Linked DNA regions of Homo sapiens: region 2 is linked to region 1. The links come from fine-mapping of genetic effects on plasma protein levels. A gene starts in region 1. The other region holds a variant in brackets. All regions are shown on one strand. Distances are between the middles of the regions.

Region 1 (2,895 bases):
GGTTCCTCAACTGGATAACAGTAGGGTTGTCGGAGGATGAAATGAGTTAATATGGGTAAAGGACTTAGAACAGTGCCTGGCTGGCAGTGTGCTCTCTGTACTTGGTAGGTATTCTATCGTTATTTTCCCCTACCTGAATGTCGCCTCTTCTCTTGCCTATCAACCACTCCACTCTAAACGCACTTGTAGCGAATCCAAGCCCAAGGCATCCTTTCCTGCACCATCTGAGGAAGACCCCACCCCACTCTTTATTGGCTAGTTCAGATCCAGCTTATATGTAAATGATAAGATGAAAGCCTGAGCATATGTTTTTGAGTCTATCAGTTTGATCATGGAAACTGACAGATTATCAGTAAGGACAACGAAATATAGCGGCATATTGGCCAGTCTCAAATCCTTGAAAGGTGCAAAAGTTAAAAAGTGAAAAGTGGGCCGGGCACGGTGGCTCGCACCTGTAATCTCAGCACTTTAGGAGGCAGACACAGGAGGAATGCTTGAGCCCAGGAGTTCAAGACTAACCTGAGCAACACAGCGAGACCCCCATCTCTACAAAACATGTAAAAATTGTCCGGGTGTGGTGGCGCGCGCCTGTAGTCCCAGTTACTCAGGAGGCTAAGGTGGAGGAACCTTTGAGCCCAGGAGGTCCAGGCTGCAGTGAGCCAAGACTGGGCCAGTGCACTCCAGCCTGAGTGAGAGCAAGACGCTGTCTCAAAAAAAAAAAAAAAAGAAAAGAAAAAGAAATGTAGGTTTTACTTGTGCCTCCACGCCCCACCACGCCCTCCCTTGCTCATCCAGAAGTCGCTTTGCGGTTCCACGCGCGGGCGTCTACGTCCCATCTCAGGCCGCCGGCAGTGAGGCTTTGGGAGGATGAGGCGGTACCGGCACGACCCCCGTACCTGCTCTCCCTCTCGCAGTCTAGCAACCGCCTTTGGCCCAAGTAATCTCGGCTCGCCTAATACAGCGTGCCCCGCCCCTTTCCCGTGGCGACGGGCGGCTAAGCAACGGGAGCGGGCTCTACTCAGTGGTTTCGAGCCCCCCACGCCCCAAGTGAGTCGCAAGCGACTTCCACCTGGGCCCGTAGGGCCTCCGCGTCCCGGGCCGGTCCCCGCACAGGGCGGAGCTGGCCCGGCCCGGAGCTCGCCCCGCCCCGCCTCACCGTAAGCTGACCGTGTGGCGGCCGGGCGAGGGCCTGGCAGGGGAGAGAAGGGGAGGAGAAAGGAGAGGAGGAAAGTGGAGCCTGGCGGGCCGGAGGGAGGAAGGGAAGGGGCGGAGGCCAGGGGCAGAGTGTGCCGGCGCGCGGGGGAGTCTCGGCGCTGGGCGCGTCTCGGAGCCCAAGTCGCGGCCGCCGAGCGGAGCCAGCCCCTCCCCTACCCGGAGCAGCCCGCTGGGGCCGTCCCGAGCGGCGACACACTAGGAGTCCCGGCCGGCCAGCCAGGGCAGCCGCGGTCCCGGGACTCGGCCGTGAGTGCTGCGGGACGGATGGTGGCGGCGGGGCGCGGGCCAGCGCGGGCGCCGTGAGCCGGAGCTGCGCGCGGGGCATGCGGCTGCGGCCCCCGGCCCTCGGCCCCCGCGCTCCGGCCCCAGCCCCGGCCGCCGGCCCCCGCGGAGTGCAGCGACCGCGCCGCCGCTGAGGGAGGCGCCCCACCATGCCGCGGGCCCCGGCGCCGCTGTACGCCTGCCTCCTGGGGCTCTGCGCGCTCCTGCCCCGGCTCGCAGGTAAGCCGCGCCGCCCACGGCGCCCAGAGAAACTTTGTCGCACACTCAGCCGCGGGCGGGCGTCTCGGAGGGGCGGGGAGCGCAGGCGGTGCCTGAGGGCGGAGGGCGCCTTCGGGGCACTCCCTGGTGGGCCAGTCGCTGGGGGACAGCCCCGCGGGGCGCTCCCCGCGCGCAGCCCCGCCGGGCTGTCGTGAGTCTCCTGTTCCCTCCCGGGCTGAGGAGGAGCTTCCCTTCCTGTGTAAACAGGCTGGCCGGCCTGCTGACCTAGCCCGCCAGGGCCCGCGCCCAGGGCACGGGGAGGACCGCCGCCAGCCCTGCCTTGGGGCCCGGGCTCTCCGTTGGCGGGCACAAAGCGGTCCTTGTGGCCGGCCGGGAGCGGGCGGGCTGCTGGGGGGATGCCGTCGGTGCCCTGTTCCCGGAGAAGCAAGGGAGTCTCGAAACCCCAGCCAAAGCCCGGGGCCACCTCCACTCCGGAGGGCTCGCCTCCTGGAACAGCGGGTGCACAGGGCCCACAGCGAATCCTGGAGTTCGCTGCGCCTAGGCTAGCCGCCTGCCTTTGAAGATGCAGCCCCCACCCTCCCCGCCCCCCGCCTGCTTCCTCCTCGCCTAGGCCACCGCAAACCCGAGGGGGCACCCGCGTCCCAAACCACAGCCCCACCTGGGACTTCCCTATTAAATTCCTTCTGCCCGACTTTATCCCGCGATTTGCACACGCTCGGAGCCTCACACTCCCCTAACTGTGGAGGATTCTGGAGCAGAGGACAGGGGCTGTGGAGATTGCCTTAGCCCGACGCTGCGGTGGGCTGGCAGCGTTGCAAGGATCCCTCGGTTACCTGCTCTAACTTTTCAGAGTTGGGAGATGATTGGACGTGGTAGTTTGGAGGCCCTCGAGGAAGGATGCACTTGTTTGGGATGCGGATTTTCTCCTTTCTTTTAGGAAATAATAGTGCTCTATTAACTTTCAAGCCGGAGATACTTGATTGCTCTTGTGAGCCAAGTGGTTGCCTGGCTGCCCGAAGGGAGGACTGTTCCCCCACGGTGTCTCATTTACATGAAGGCAGTGGAGGTTTAGGTTTAAGAGCGGAGGAGGGGTCTGAGCAAACAATAACTTCGTTCAGACCCTAATTCAAACTTAATACTGTAGCAAGGTTTTTGGTTTTTGTTTTAAATGGGAAAATA
Region 2 (2,895 bases), 91 kb after region 1:
CCCATCCAGGCCCACCTTGAGCCTGTTTTCAAGGCAATCTGTGAGAAGCTCCTGAGTGAGAAACACTTCCTTACATATTCTGTTTAAAAAGAAAAGGTCTGTCCATGTGCATGGTGCATTTCATCAGTTGGAGACTCTTCTTTAAGACCTCAGGGGCATGGGGGGATTGTGAAAGATGCAGCTATGACAAGCACTCACAGAGGAGGAATTGGGGCACGGGGGACTCGGGGGTGTCTGGAGAGCAAGCTCTGGAGTCAGCTGAGCCCTTTGCCAGCAGGCACAGAGCCCTCTCTATGGCGGGCCAGGTGGGTGCCCTTCACCCGGCACCCTGTGAGAGTGCCATTGTGCCTGGCACAGAGGCAGCGCCCAGGAAATGTTTTTCCACCAAATGACTTTTTAAGTGAGCAGAGAAGAGGCATCTGCAGCGGGGCTGGGAAGAGGATAGGACAGAAGAGAAAAGAAAGGGAGAATAAGAACTGTGTGAACTCAAGGAAGCCCTATAGCTTTCCGCAGGGGCCCATTTCCTCAGGGTCATGGGGATGCAAAGAGATAATGAATGTTAAAGAATTCACCTGTCAAATGTGAGCTCACCTGTGCATTCTCTTCTCCATGAAGCATGGGAGCTTGCTGGTTCTGAGGTCTCTTCCTACTCCGGCCATCTTGGTGGTTCTACCTGAGTGCGTGGAGAGGGCTGGAGTTCGCAGCTGCTCTTCATCAAGGGCCCTGCCCCTGGGTGAATGGGAGACCCTGGCTTGCCGCAGCCATGATATCCCTTCTCTTCCTTCTGCCCAGGCATCTTTTGAAGTATCATTGGAGGCCCGAAGCTGTCCCAGCAGACACACGGAGCATGTGTTTGCCCTGCGGCCGGTGGGATTCCGGGACAGCCTGGAGGTGGGGGTCACCTACAACTGCACGTGCGGCTGCAGCGTGGGGCTGGAACCCAACAGCGCCAGGTGCAACGGGAGCGGGACCTATGTCTGCGGCCTGTGTGAGTGCAGCCCCGGCTACCTGGGCACCAGGTGCGAGTGCCAGGATGGGGAGAACCAGAGCGTGTACCAGAACCTGTGCCGGGAGGCAGAGGGCAAGCCACTGTGCAGCGGGC[G/A]TGGGGACTGCAGCTGCAACCAGTGCTCCTGCTTCGAGAGCGAGTTTGGCAAGATCTATGGGCCTTTCTGTGAGTGCGACAACTTCTCCTGTGCCAGGAACAAGGGAGTCCTCTGCTCAGGTAAGTGTCCCCAGCAAGCACTTTAGCTCTGAGCCAGGCCAAGATGCCGTTAGGACACCCTCCCAAAGCCTGCCTTTTACTCAGTGGTGGTAGAAAGTGTCACTACCATGGCTCTCCTTGGAGAAGACAGTGGGCAAGCCTTGCTACCCGTAGGCAGGAGGTGGGGATCTGTGTGCAGAATACGAAAGCAGAAGGTATTGCCATAAATTGTGGACTCTCAGAATTCGAGGGGCCTGCGTGGGTCATCCACCTTACTTCCCAATTCATGCAGGACTGGCCTGCACAGCATTCCTGACAGGTAGAGATGTTCAGCCTCTTCTTGATTGCCTCCTGGGACGGGGAACTCACTGGGGCTGGCAGTGGCCATCTGTCCCTTAGCCAATGAACTCATATCTTATTGCTGCTCCCATAACTCACCACAAACCTGTTGGCTTAAAATAATACACATTTAATCCATTACAGTTCTGGAGGCCAGAAGTCTGAAATGGATCTTATTTGGCTAGAATCAAGGTGCCAGCAGGGCTGCATACCTCCTAGAAGCTCCAGGGGAGAATCTGTGTCCCGGCCTTTTCCAGTTCCTAGAGGCCACCTGTATTCTTTGGCTTGCAGCTCCTTCTTCCATTTTCAAAACCAGCAGAGTAACATCCTCAGATCTCTCTGACTCTGACCTCTGCTTCTGTTGTCAAATCCTTCTCCCTCTCCTACAGACCCTTGTGGTTACAAGGGACCCTCAGTCGAACCCTGGAAAGTCTCCCCATCCCCAGGTCCTCAGCTTACTCACATCTGCACAGTCCCTTTCACCACGTAAGGCCACACAGTCACAGGTTCCAGGGATTAGGATGTGGACATCTCTGGGGGCTCTTATTTTTCCTGCCAGAATTCCTCTTTTTTTTTTTTCTGAGATGGAGTCTCACTCTGTTGCCCAGGCTGGAGTGCAATGGCAGGATCTCGACTCACTGCAACCTCTGCCTCCCAGGTTCAAGCAATTCTCCTGCCTCAGACTCCCGAGTAGCTGGGATTATAGGCGCCCGCCACCACACTCGGCTAATTTTTGTATTTTTAGTAGAGACGGGGTTTCACCATGTTGGCCAGGCTGGTCTTGAACTCGTGATCTCAAGTGATCCATCCACAGCCTCCCAAAGTACTGGGATTATAGACGTGAGCCACTGTGCCCGGCCCAGAATTCCTCTTTATACTGAAGAGAAACTTGTTTCTCAATAACTTCCTCCCAATGGTTAACATTCTAGAGTCCCCCTTCCACGTGACAACCTGTCAAACATCTAAAAGCTGCTTTATGTTTCTCTGTTCTCTCTTCTGATCTAGGCTAGACACCCCAAGTCTCTTCCTTGTCCGAGGGTGCTATCATTTGTGAAGCATGCTTCACATAATCAAGTGCGTTACTTGTCATGCTGGATGATGAGGGCTTGGTCCAGGGTTCAGTGAAGCATGCGTTTCCTGTGATTTGGACATTCTGCTTACATGGATGCACCCTGACAATACATTCACCTTTTTTTATTTTCTTCTTCTTCTTCTCCTTCTCCTCCTCCTTCTCCTCCCTTCTCCCTTCCTCTCTCTCTCTCTTTCTTTCTTGTTTCTTTTTTTTTTTGAGATGAAGTCTCGCTCTGTTGCCTAGGCTGGAGTGCAGTGGCACAATCTCAGCTCACTGCAACCTG

Direction of the effects. Positions count from the first base shown, and alleles are read on the strand shown. Strength reflects both the effect of a copy and how common the allele is.
For the plasma level of the protein whose gene starts at base 1,282 in region 1, allele G in region 2 goes with a higher level than allele A (weak association).

The links. PIP is the chance, under the fine-mapping model, that this variant and not a neighbour inherited with it causes the effect. The UK Biobank Pharma Proteomics Project read protein levels with antibody pairs (Olink). The fine-mapping took linkage between variants from a reference panel, not from the people measured, so its PIPs are less certain.
Region 2: its variant is fine-mapped to the plasma level of the ITGB5 protein (UK Biobank, PIP above 0.99). The variant lies in the coding sequence of ITGB5. If it changes the protein, the assay may bind it differently, which can mimic a change of level.

Annotation. Positions count from the first base shown.
Region 1 is chr3:124,885,752-124,888,646 of GRCh38, reverse strand. It overlaps ITGB5 (integrin subunit beta 5), which reads left to right and starts at 1,282. Exons shown (of 15, transcript NM_002213.5): 1 at 1,282-1,716. The coding sequence starts at 1,647. RefSeq lists enhancers at 1-789, 2,558-2,895 and silencers at 904-1,343, 1,804-1,893.
Region 2 is chr3:124,794,715-124,797,609 of GRCh38, reverse strand. It overlaps ITGB5 (integrin subunit beta 5), which reads left to right. Exons shown (of 15, transcript NM_002213.5): 10 at 793-1,222. LOC124909422 (a long non-coding RNA gene) reads left to right here and starts at 1,235. Exons shown (of 2, transcript XR_007096043.1): 1 at 1,235-2,895. The variant G/A (reference allele first, on the strand shown) is at 1,103.